3 separate regions of the Homo sapiens genome follow, and regions 1 and 2 are each reported to be linked to region 3. The links are microRNA targets in miRTarBase. Many come from high-throughput screens and were not tested one by one. Region 3 holds a microRNA gene; each other region holds the end of a gene's coding sequence.

What was found. The annotated mature microRNA hsa-miR-1282 reads UCGUUUGCCUUUUUCUGCUU and lies in region 3 at 2,931-2,950, shown strand. An mRNA with a match to its seed (bases 2 to 7 or 8) in the 3' UTR can be bound and repressed. Matches are read on the target gene's strand: a 7mer-m8 pairs with bases 2 to 8, a 7mer-A1 pairs with bases 2 to 7 and ends in A, and an 8mer does both.
Region 1: the mRNA of ANKRD40 is a reported target of hsa-miR-1282. Seed matches in the 3' UTR shown: 7mer-A1 at 1,814-1,820.
Region 2: miRTarBase lists AP1S3 as a target of hsa-miR-1282. Seed matches in the 3' UTR shown: 7mer-A1 at 1,234-1,240.

The regions. Positions count from the first base shown.
Region 1 is chr17:50,692,230-50,696,390 of GRCh38, forward strand. ANKRD40 (ankyrin repeat domain 40) reads right to left here. Exons shown (of 5, transcript NM_052855.4): 5 at 969-3,914. The coding sequence ends at 3,768. ABCC3 (ATP binding cassette subfamily C member 3) reads left to right here. Exons shown (of 31, transcript NM_003786.4): 31 at 1-24. Among named protein-coding and RNA genes, the nearest start is that of ANKRD40, 14 kb to the right of the region's middle.
Region 2 is chr2:223,755,017-223,759,177 of GRCh38, forward strand. It overlaps AP1S3 (adaptor related protein complex 1 subunit sigma 3), which reads right to left. Exons shown (of 5, transcript NM_001039569.2): 5 at 310-3,734. The coding sequence ends at 3,699. Among named protein-coding and RNA genes, the nearest start is that of AP1S3, 80 kb to the right of the region's middle.
Region 3 is chr15:43,792,521-43,796,681 of GRCh38, reverse strand. MIR1282 (microRNA 1282) reads left to right here and starts at 2,923; the gene lies at 2,923-3,023. SERF2 (small EDRK-rich factor 2) reads right to left here. Exons shown (of 3, transcript NM_001018108.4): 2 at 3,599-3,707; 3 at 603-2,972. The coding sequence ends at 2,909. It overlaps SERINC4 (serine incorporator 4), which reads left to right. Exons shown (of 12, transcript NM_001258031.2): 8 at 1-66; 9 at 455-527; 10 at 946-994; 11 at 1,141-1,294; 12 at 1,469-2,520. The coding sequence ends at 1,682. It overlaps SERF2-C15ORF63 (SERF2-C15orf63 readthrough), which reads right to left. Exons shown (of 6, transcript NR_037673.1): 2 at 3,599-3,707. RefSeq lists enhancers at 638-1,137, 1,138-1,639, 2,361-3,214, 3,550-3,879, 3,668-4,161.

The sequences.
Region 1 (4,161 bases), not on the chromosome of region 3:
AATTTGTTTTCTTGAGCAAGCCAACAAAGAGTTTCTTTTCTGCAGGTCAGAGTCCACCTGGCTGGCACCGGCCTTCTATTTGGAATGGATCTCTTCTCCTTGTTCCTAAGTGTTCTGGTCTCCTCTGTCTCGCTCTCATTTCCTCTATCTTTGTCTTGGTATGATGTGAGTGGCTGTGGGTGATGGTGGTTTTCTCCCCAACCCTAAATGGCTTGCAGTAGATATGGATGGAGGTGGATCCTTTGACTGGTTTTTTCTATATGCTCTGGGTCAGCCTGTGCTGCAGGACCATTTGTTAAAGGTTAATCACATTTTTTTGGCAGGCTGTTTCTGCCCAGGATGTTTATGAGTATATGGAAGATGACTTCCATCCTTGTGATAAAGCAAGTATGAAAGCACAAATGCCCAAATTATCCTGCCTCTCCTTGGTGCTAAGAAAAGGTCTCTGCTATGCTCTCTGATTTATTAGGCCAATTTGGCTTGACGTCTGCTTTGTGAGGTGCTAGCTGGCCTGAACCAACAGAAAAGCAGACTCATTCAGCATCAGTATCAGCTAAAGATCTGGAAGTGTAAGGCTGTGTTTCCTCTCCTGTCTTGGGACTTTGCTTCTGAGCTCATTGAGGCCCTGACAGGTGCTGACAACTCAAAGGAGAGGCTCAGTTGGGTAAAGTAAATAGGATAATCAAAAAATGTGGTTAATAGGGGATGACCTCCATCTAACTGGCTCAGCTACTCCAGGGAAATGAAGCCGACTGCGTGAACTGGAAGGAAAGACGCCGCACAAAATATCCGTCCCCAGGTGCTACTGACAGGGTATGAACGGGATGTGGAGGAGGCTCAGGTGGAGAGAGGGCCCTTCTAATTTTCCTGCAGAGCTTCTGGTCTCTGGGACTGTCCAACAATTTGAACCCCCTATGATTAGAACTGTAGTGCTGTTTAGGAAGCCAAAATGAAGGCATATAGGATCGGTCAGTTAATATTTAATTTTAATAATACTTGTTATGTTTGAACAGTCAGCAATGCACAAAGAAAAAATCTTCAGTGAATGTTTACACACAGTGTGAACACATGCTTTAAATATGCAGTGGAGGAGGAGGGGTGAATTCACAGTTAACAAAGCTAAAAAAAAAATCCTTGTTATAAATTACACAAAGCATATAAAAATATTTCTCTGAATGCATAGATTAAGACTTTAAACTCACCTACCAGCAACTGTGCAGTCTTATTCCACTGCGATACGCAGTAGTCAGTTGACCACAGAGGATTTTATAAAGGAGAAGAGAGACCAGCATAGGACAGAGATACATCAAACCCACCTCTCACCAGAGACACCAGTCCCTTGCTTGCCTCTGTCGCTAAGCCCAGAACATGCCCTGCAGCTGCTCCTCTGGAGGCCATCTCCCAGCCAGGGGCTCCACTGCTCCACTTTAATTAATCTGGGTGGCTGAAAGTGTTTTAACCCAAGTAACTTAAGACATGAATTAATAGTGAATTTATTTCCTCTAGGACAGAACCAGACTTAACTTTATTAGTAAACTGTAACTGTTTTAGAAGTAAAGAAAAAAAAGGTTACTACATCTAGTTAAATTCACTTCCGATTGGTTGAAACACAAGGGAGGGGCTGGGCCGGGTGGCTCACACCTGTAATCGGAGCACTTTGGGAGGCCAAGGCAGGTGGATCACTTGAGGCCAGGAGTTCGAGACCAGCCTGGCCAACATGGTGAAACCTTGTCTCTACTAAAATACAGAAATTAGCTGGGCATGGTGGCACATGCTTGTAATCCCAGCTACTTGGGAGGCTGAGGCAGGAGAATCGTTTGAACCCGGGAGGCAGAGGTTTCAGTGAGCTGAGATTATGCCACTGCACTTCAGCCTGGGCAACAAAGCAAGACTCCGTCTCAAAAAAAAAAAGAAAAGAAACACCAGGGAGGTTTCTTCTTTAAAGCACTTGAGAGAAAGAGGGTAATAAGTAACCTTCACTCTGCTATGCAAACACTGTACAAGGGTGAGTAAGTCACCAGCAGTAATTGGTGGGATACAATTAAGTCACTAAACAGAGTGAGTCCATGAAGTTAGCCTTGAAAAACATCTCAACCTCATTTCAGCATTTAGGCAGCAGCAGGAGGCCATTATCTTAGCACAACATTCTCTTCTGTTGACATCTTCTGCACGTTCTCACTCAACTGTAGTGTTCTAATAAAATTAAGTTAACACAGTTAGGAAGTTGAGTTTCTTTGGAAACTATAGGCACTATGGGGAAAAAGCTTCTTAAGACAGCAGGGATGCTCTTCGACAGCTGGCTTCAAACCCCTGCTCTCCTGTTTGTCTAAGTGTGCTAGTTCTTATTTCTGAAGTTAAGCTGTTTGTTTCAACAAAACAGTGGCTGCTCTTTTAACATTAATGACACTGAAGGAAAGGAAAAGAATCCTTGAATGCATTCTTCTAAAAAATTCCTATGCCATACTCAAGAGCTTAATCAGGTGTTTTGTTTCTATTTTTCAGAACAAAGTCTGGTAGACTCATAACTGACTTTGTGAAGTGAATTGGTGGTAGTAGTAGGGGGATCACTAAGATCAAACAATTTGTTTACAAAAGCAACAGATTTCAGAATTGTGTAAAAATCCTAATAATTTCAAAATAACCTTTATTTTTGATACAAAAATAAAGATGCTAACTCCTTTAGCTCAGTTTCCCACAATAACCTTTAAAATAGCAACAGATTCAGTCTCAAAAATTGCTTTTCATTTGTAGTGGAAAATGAAAGTGGAGAACATGGAACAGCAATATTTGTGCTCTTCTCATAGGATGCAGTTACACACACATATGACTGGAATCACTTCAGAGTAAAAAAAAAGTGGGCTGGGTGCAGTGGCTCACACCTGTAATCCCAGCACTTTGGGAGGCCAAGGACAGGAGCATCACTTAAGGCCAGAAGTTTGAGACCAGCCTGGGCCACATAGTGAGACCCTGTCTCTATGGGCGGGGTGGGGGTGGGGGGCATTGTAAAAAAGCAGTTGTTCTTTTAGAAGGCATCAGAGAGCCCTCTAGTGACCACGAAGGGGAGTTAATGCAGAGATGACTCGAGACAGAGAAGCAGTCATGAGTGTTTACAAAGGAAAAAGTGAGGGAGGGAAAGCTCTTTTGGTTAACAGCATATTTACAATTAGTTAACTGTATTCTTAAATACTTTTAACCTGAGTAACATTTATAAATATGTTATAGGAAACCTCACAGTCACAAGTCACACTAGAATCCATCTGTCCAGTATCTGTGCTTTCCCCACACCAGAATCCATCTGTCCAGTATCTGTGCTTTCCCGAGTCTTCCTCTCTCATAAGTTCCCAATGTCAGCAGAGTTGTGAGCATGCAACACCAAGAAAAACGCATCCCAGCCCTTCAGGTGCACTGTCAACAGGAGTGGCTAGAAATAGGCTCCGCTCTCTCTCAGCTGCTGCTTAGACAACTCTCTTACATTCTGGACATAAAACACACTGGATATAGAACCTTCAGCTTCTGCCTCTCCAGACCACTTCTCAGCTGTTCAAAGCTTCAAGCAATAGGTTTACTGTGCACCAAGAGGCTTGGAAGAGTGGCACCACTGCTTGGGGGTCAGGGGCTTCCTACCTTGGCAGAATGATGTTAGTATATACTATGCAGTGGCACCAGAGGCCCTCCCGGGCATCTGAGGCATTTAGATCAATGGCTTGTCCTTGGCCCAGAGGTGATGCACACTGTCATAATACTCAGTGATAAAAGTCCCTGCTGCATTAGTAAGTCAGTTTTGAAGCTCTCCTGTTATAGCAAGGCCTTTCAGTCAGTGTGGATGCAGCATTTCTGAACAGAAAATTATTTTCACTTATCATCAGAACCAGTTCCAGCTCCTGGAAATCTTGGAGTCGAGCAACATCCTTGTCCTAAAACAAAAATATGTTAAACAGATTAACAGGAGCCACTTGTCTCCATATGTTTGGTGCACTCTATTGATACCAGTATCTTGTCTTATTTCAAAACCTAGAAGAAAAAAAAAAATCCCTGTGGCAGGCTAAGTCAGTGATAGTGCAACTAAGGCCCCAGGATGATTGGGTTGCAAAGTGGAAGTCCTTAAAAACAGCTCAGCAGCTGCGACAGCATGAGCACACACTGCGAAGGGAGAGGCAATGC
Region 2 (4,161 bases), not on the chromosome of region 3:
GTCAACTTTACATTTGTTAATGAAAGAAAAGGAGCTGTCACTAGATTTAAAAAATGATCACATCATTAATTACGTGTAAAGAGATCAGATTACCAAAATGTAGGTGAATGATGAGAAAAGTCAGTAGGAGCAAAAGCAATAAATACTCTTCTCCCATTTGCTACCACTTACTTTTGAAGTTGCTTCTTGTTGGTAGGTACCAAGAAAATAAAGAGGTCATATTAAAGAGACATCACCAGGAATTATGAGTAGCAATTTCAAACATAAAATCTGACTTAAAAAAAAGTGTATTCATGAAAACACACCAAGTTCCTCATTAAAACATGTTAAAACATTTTATTTTGGAAGTTTTATAGAAATTTAACATTTACTGTCTTTCTCTTGGTAGTTTTATAGTAATTATATAATATAAAGAAAACACAATGACTATTTTAGCCTAGGCCCATGGAAGATGTCCCTAAAATCCCTCAAATTTACCCCACTGTGCCATATAGATATGTTTACTTACTTTCATTTTTTTTTTTTTTTTTTTGAGACAGGGTCTCACTCTGTCACCCGGGCTGGAGTACAGTGGCGTGATCTCAGCTCACTGCAACCTCTGCCTCCCGGGTTCAAGCGATTCTCCTGCCTCAGCCTCCTGAGTAGCTGGCACTACAAGCATGTGCCACCACACTTGGCTAATTTTTGAATTTTTAGTAGAGACAGGGTTTCACCATGTTGGCCAGGCTGGTCTCGAACTCCTGACCTCAGGTGATCTGCCGCCTTGACCTCCCAAAGTGCTGGGATTACAGGCGTGAGCCACCTTGCCCAGAAGAGATATATTTACTTTCTATGTGTGACACTGATTGAAGTCTGAGAAGCCCTGTCCATAACTAAAGTGTCTAATATGGAATTATCCAGAACATGTGTAGTATATTTGAATGAGGTTCAAGAGATACCTTTATCCAAATATGGTGACAAATTTCAAAAGAACCGGAAAAACTATGATGGATTTACATGAGGTCCATCTTTACAAAATTGTATTGAAAAATAAAGAATTTGGCCGGGTGCAGCGGCTCATGCCTGTAATTCCAGCACTTTGGAAGGCCAAGGCGGGCGGATCACCTGAGGTCGGCGTTCAAGACCAGCCTGACCAACATGGAGAAATCCCAACTCTACCAAAAATACAAAATTAGCCAGGCGTGGTGGCGCATGCCTATAATCCCAGCTACTCGGGAGGCTGAGGCAGGAGAATCGTTTGAACCCAGGAGACGGAGGCTGCAGTGACCTGAGATCACACCATTGCACTCTGGCCTGGGTGACAAGAAGCGAGGAAAGAAAAGAAAGAAAAGAAAAGAAAAGAGAAAAAGAAAGAAAGAAAGGAGGGAGGGAGGAAGGGAAGGAAGGAAGGGAGGGAAGGAGAGAGAGAGAAGAAGGAAGGAAGAAAGGAAGGAAAAGAAAGAAAGAAAGAAAAGAAAGAAAGAAAGAAAAAAAGAAAGAAAAAATTCTAACACATTAAAAAGTTAAACCACAAAACTGAAGGTTAGCTAAAGTAAACACAGTGGTCAATCATACATGATAAACTTCAAGCTGATGCCATAATTGTAATTACATGGTAACCTGAAGAAATATTGGATAGTAAAAGCCTAATGATTATTTTATATGCTAATCTGAGTTATTTCCTTTGAACAATGGTTATATTGAGGAATTGGTGAATTTTTCCCTTTGTTCTCCTGCTTGCTTTGCTGTTTTCCCTAAATATGTCTGCTGAGATGAACTAAAGAGAACATTTTTCCATCGAGTTCTCTAAAAATCTACCAGATGGGATCTCCTAAAGAATCCAACAGGAAACACACTCTTCTAGGAAATCACTGGAGGTCCCAAACCACTCTAATATGAATGATACCAGACCTCAAAGCTAACATTGAAAATGCACAGGTAAAACATCAAATAGCAGGCAGCAAGACAGAATACTACAAGCTTTTACTTTTTCTTTTTTTTTTTTTTTTTCTTGAGACGCAGTCTTGCTCTGTCACCCGCCTGGAGTGCACTGGTATGACCTTGGCTCACTGCAACCTCTGCCTCCTGGGTTCAAGCCATTCCCCTGCCTCAGCCCCCTGAGTAGCTGGGATTACAGGCACCTGCCACCATGCCCGGCTAATTTTTTTGTTTGTTTGAGACGAAGTCTCGCTCTGTCGCCCAGGCTGGAGTGCAGTGGCACAATCTCAGCTCACTGCAACTTCTGCCTCCCAGGTTCAAGCGATTCTCCTGCCTCAGCCTCCCAAGTAGCTGGGACTACAGGCACGCACCACCACTCCCGGCTAATTTTTGTATTTTTAATAGAGGTGGGGTTTCACCTTGTTGGCGAGGATGGTCTTGATCTCTTGACCTTGTGATCCGCCCACCTCTGCCTCCCAAAGTGCTGGAATTATAGGCATGAGCCACTGTACCCGGCCTAATTTTTGTATTTTTAGTAGAGATGGGGTTTCATCATATTGGCCAGGCTGCTCTCGAACTCCTGACCTCAAGTGATCCACCTGCCTCGGCCTCCCAAAGTGCTGGGATTACAGGTGTAAGCCACCACTCCCGGCCTACAAGCTATTTCCCTGTAATATGTCTGATCACTGTTAGGACCTGGTTATACAGAATTTTCATTCCAGGAAGCACAAATGTGATATACTTACAGTAATAATGGTCAGCAGCAAATCTTTTCTTTGGGGAGGAAAGGGTAAGAAAAGAAAAAAGAAGGAAAGGAATCTACCATATAGGCTGTGATAATCTTAAATGCTCTAAGTAAGCCATGTAATAAGTCTTCAAATGCATTAGAGATACATTAAAACATATTTGAAATGAAATTTCCAGCATCTAAGAGTGCTTGGAACGTGAATTTTAAAAAATAGTAGCAATAATTATTATTGCTATTAATTCTTATCATACTATTTTAGAATAATAAAGGAAGTCATAGATGCTGTATCTCTAGGTCTCTATAAACCTTAATAAATATATAGTTCATAGAAAACCTTATTGGAATGTCCCTTATATTCAATTAAAAGATAAATTAAAACCTCAGTCAAGATAGCAGCTTCTAAGGCATCAAAAACACTTATTAAGTTCTATACTCTTTGGTTATTTTCATAATCCCAATTCTAAAAAAAATAAATGAATTCAGCACATTAAAATCAGACATTTTGTATGTGAATTGCAGTTACAGTACTATTAAGTGTATGAAAAATGTCTAGCATTACATATAAACTCTGCACTATTAACATAATTTTGAATTATTATACAATTTAGAAAACTAAACATTTAGAAAAAGTATTAATGACATCATATATACTTTACATTCAAAATCATGGATTATTACAATATTGTGTCAAATGCAAAAAAAATTGCAGCTAATGTATCTAAACCAGCTTAAAAACATAACATGGAGTTAATACATTACAAATATTGTCTGTTGGGTTAGGTGGTAGTTACTTTAAACATTTAGAGCTACAAGTACCTATACAGTATAACACAGACACATAATTTTTTTTAATAATACAGACACATAGTAATTATAAATATGTTAAACAACTTTAACTTTGTTAGTTAACAAAGAATCCCTTTAAATTATTTTTGGCATGGTGCCTGAGGCTCCATCAAAAAACCGGATGGGAGGCGTTGCTTATTTACAGCTTCATAACATGTAGTGCTGGAGTCTTCAAGTAGATTTCCAGTTAAAATGTAGGCTTGTTCATGTATTCTTCCATTGTCTGAAAGCGAACAATAAATTAGAACAATTTTCCCTTTAAGTCACAGCCTTCCGCAGACTGTGAAATCTTCTGCATTCTTTTATTTATTTGCCATTGTTGAAAACAAGTTGTCAAAAGGATACATGGATATAAAATCTTTGCATTCTAATCAAAGTTTGAGTATAATTTGTATACACATCCATATGGGGCTGGAATTAAGTAACTTTCAACTGAGAAAAAGTTAAGCTTGATCATAAAGTGAATGTCTGATAAGAGAAATGCTTGGCCAGTGTGGTGCTCACGCCTGTAATACCAGCACTTTGGGAGGCTGAGGTGGGCAGATCACCTGAGGCCAGCCTGGCCAACATGACAAAACCCCATCTCGATGAAAAATACAAAAATTACCCGAGTGTGGTGGCATGCACCTGTATTCCCAGCTACTCGGGAA
Region 3 (4,161 bases):
AACACCAGATATCTCTCTAGCAATGCTGAGTGCTAGCATCATGTATGCTTGTGTGCTTTTTGCTTGGTGCGTAAAGGTGTCAAGGGTGGAGGTATGAAAGGAGGGTGCCCAAGACAGGGAAGGATGGTCAGGACAATGTCTGGGACCATTATTTAAAGTTTAGAGCAAGACTAGAGTGAGAAAAGCTCCCCACAAACAGGGACAAATTCTAAGAATAGTACTTTGTCAGATGATCTGTATGAGATGAAGGGGGTGGGGGGAATGACTTGAGAATTTAAAATATGTCCAAAGACCTTAGGGCTCTCACATGAATAGAATTCTAAATCTTTGGTGGAAAAGGGCACAGGGAGTATGGTACCCTTTTGAGGATTACCAGTATGGACCAATTGGTAGTAAATGCCCCCAGATAATCCCTATTTAACTAAACCAGCTTAAGAACTCTATTCTTTCTCAGCAATGAGGCCTCCTACCTGGCTGAGGTATTTGGACCCCTGTGGATTGTCAAGGTTTACAGCTATGAGTTTCAGGTGAGGATAAAGAGCTCCATATCCCCAACACCCTCCCTCCCCCACACAAAGACACACACACATCCTACCAACCTCTACCCAGAATGCTCAGATTATAGCTGCTGTTACCTTTTATTGAGTACCCACAATGTGCTAGGCAACTGTGCTAGATACTTTTACATAATCTCATTTAATTTAACCCTCACAACAACCCTGTGAGGTAGGTATTTGCTCCATTTTACAAATGGAGAAATCGAGGCACAAAAGATTAAACATCTTACCAAAGTCTGCACAGCCACTTATATGCTGGAGCTAGAATTTGAACCCAGGTGTGCCTCCACTTTTTAATACTAGACCAATCTTTTCACGGGGGAAGTTTCCTAGATTAACACCCTCACATCTTTTAAGACCATTCCAAAACCTGCGTTCTGTTTTGCAGAAGCCCTCACTGTGTTTCTGCTGCCCTGAAACAGTGGAGGCAGACAAAGGTGAGTGCCAAGTGAGGAACCATAAGAAGTGGTAGATCTCTGTGGAGTGCCATAAGAACCCTCAAGAGCCTTAACAAAGGTAGTTGGGGGAGAGGGGAAGAGGTGTTTCAGCAGCTCTGCTCCCAGCAGCCATTTCCTCTCTCCAGGGCAAAGGGGTGGGGCTGCGAGGCCAGCTGACCAAGAAACCCCTCCAGCTCCTCCAGTCCAAGTCCAGCATCTTTCCTACAACTATTCTGCCTTCCACTTCGTCTTCTTCCTTGCCTCACTCTATGTCATGGTTACCCTTACCAACTGGTTCAGGTAAGATGGAGTGGGCCTTAGATACTCTCCTGAAGAGCTAGCTATTTTAAGGAAAGAGCAATTCAAGGCCATTCCAGACACACATGGGTCTGCCATTATATTTGGTGAGGAGGTAGAACAGGTCTAAAAGCTAAGGCCCTTCATATTCTCTAACCAGAGCCTTTGGTTACACAGCTATGAGGGAGCAGAACTGGAAAAGACCTTCATCAAGGGTAGCTGGGCCACCTTCTGGGTCAAGGTTGCCTCATGCTGGGCCTGCGTACTCCTCTATCTGGGGCTGTTACTGGCACCACTCTGTTGGCCCCCCACCCAGAAACCCCAGCCCCTTATCTTGAGGCGCCGCCGCCACCGCATCATATCCCCAGATAACAAATATCCTCCAGTCTAAGTCCTTTTCACAAACTGGGGTTCCCCTGACATTGTACTCCTAGAGTTGGCTCAAGGGGAGCTGTCCAGCCCAGCTCAATACCTCAAGGACACACAGGGAGTTATCTCCGTTTGGGCTGAAGTCAATACTATGAACTGGAAGAAGTGGTCAAACACAGTCTAATGTGCTGGGCAGAGTGTCTGACTCACTGGAGCTACTGTTACATCTGCATCCCAGCTCAAGAGCCTAACACCCAAATCAGCAGCTCAAAGAACCACCGCTGATCCCAGCAGACAGTGTGGCACCAGCCCTTTCCTGGCTCTTGGGCTGGAAGTGGGGGTGGGGAAAGACCAACAGGGACTGAAGACTCGGCTCTGCCCTTGGAGAAAGGAAAATAAGGAGTTCAGCCCTGGGCACACGGATATAAGAAGCCCAGAACCACAGAACAAACCAGGGCATAGAAGAAAGGAGCACAGAGGCTACCCCAGGTTTTAATCCTGATTTTGAGGTCAAGGGAAGCGGGAAGACAAAACCACCCTCATTCCATGAGGAATGACAGAAGAGAAAGTGAACGCTTGACAGCAGCTGACCACGGGAAGTCGGTGAGCAGCAGGATTTTTTGGCCAACTTTCAAGCAGACGAACAAACTGAGGAAGAATGAGGAAAAGAGGCATAAACACAGATCTTGCAGCATTCACTCTTAGGCCAACTCCATCCTAGAGATGGTGTTCAAGGGTGGGGAACAAAAATCACAGAAAAGAAGTCTCTATGGTTCTTAGAGGATTCCTCTACTGCATATCCGGAGTACTTGTTTGGTTGTCATTGTATAATAAAGGCTTCTTCTGTGATGTTTCACTTATTAAGTCTACATACCCACAATCTGAATCTAAAGAGTTCTCCCTTTTTTGGTGGGAAAGGGCAGTCATTCTTCCAACCCCATCCCCCCAAGTCCCCAGTCAAACCAGGCGCTCAAGGAATTACAAAGCTACTTTTAATACTTTGGGGTGAGCCCCACAGGAATAAAAAACACTGGGAAGGGGTAACCCCCTCACCCCCGGGAGTGGCCCAGGGGGAGAGAGGCTACCTGAGGGGAAGGAAGCACAAAAGGGACCCGCTGCAGACTCAGGGCAAAGGGAATGCCATCGGTGCTGGGACCTGTGAGCACTACAGGAGGAAACGCGAGCGTGGTGGGACTGGCTCCAGGCACACAGGCGAAGGGCAAGAGGGTTGGACACGAAGCCACAAAGCTACTTGGGTTCCTCCTTCTTCTCGTTTGCCTTTTTCTGCTTCTGCTGCATGATCTCCGAGTCCCTGGGGGTAGAGATGATGGGGCACTGGGAGGTACCAGAGGGCAAAAAGGACAAGATGCAGGGGGATGAAGGGCACAAAGGATAAGATGGAAGTGGATGGGACTAAGTTCAGCGTTTGGCTGCTGTACTCCCACCCTAGGAGAACAAGAGGAAGAGAGCTGAGGCTCAAAAGGCGACCAGTCTCCATCTGGCTGTTGCCCAAGGGGTCAGAAGTCTGGTGACACAGGCCCAAGGGTCTCTATTCTGTATTGAGGACCACACCCAGCAACACCAGTGAGGAGGTTGGGAGAAGGGAGGAGAACCGAACAGCAAGGAGGGCCAAAAGTACTGGGCTGCCGTAACCACAACTGTATTTGAAATGTGAAGCTCCCTGCCCTTGCCCTTAAGGTCAGACCCAGGGACGCTCAGAAATCAGACTGAGGGCAGGCGCCCGCCCCCGTCCTTTCCTGTAAGGCTGTGAGCTAACAATTTGGAGGGTGGGGAGGAAATAAAACCCTAGAGGAAGCAATGCACTCTGCTCCTCACGACTAGTCCACATTCAAGCCCTGAGGTAGCTCTCTTTCCTTCTATAACCCTTGGTCTAACCCAGGTCTCCACCGTCCCTTTCCCTCCCCTCCCTGGGGCTACCTCTGCTTGCGGGCGGCAGCAGAAAGCCCGTCATCTCGGCGCTTTCCCTTAACCGAGTCGCTCTGCTTTTTCATATTCTTCTGGCGGGCGAGCTCACGCTGGTTACCGCCTAAGGAAAGAAAATTAAAGGTGAGACGCGGGGGCCGCTCTGCCCACACACCGGCGACCCTTCTACCCCAGCGCGGCCAGCAGCAGGATCCAACACCACTTCAATCTCCGGGCCCCGACAACGGCCCATCGAGGCCCAGGCTGCTTGGGGTAGGGGGGAGTGGCGAATCTGCCACGGGCCAGGTCAAAATACGGACTAGAGAAGGGAGGTCCCAAGGGGCCAGCTGGAGGCGTGTTTTGGGGCGGCGTGGGGCCCAAACAGCTGGCAAGGTGTGTGTGGACGGTTTGGGTCTCCGTGGGGGATGGGCTGGCTTGTGGAGTGGGGGCTCTGGGCCTATCACAGGGGCGCTGGCCTTCTCCTTACACCGCGGAAGATCCGGGAGGGCCTATGCCTAACCCGGGAGGGTGGTCCCGTGAAGTAGCCGTGGGCAAAGGGCTCGATTTCCGGGCACCGA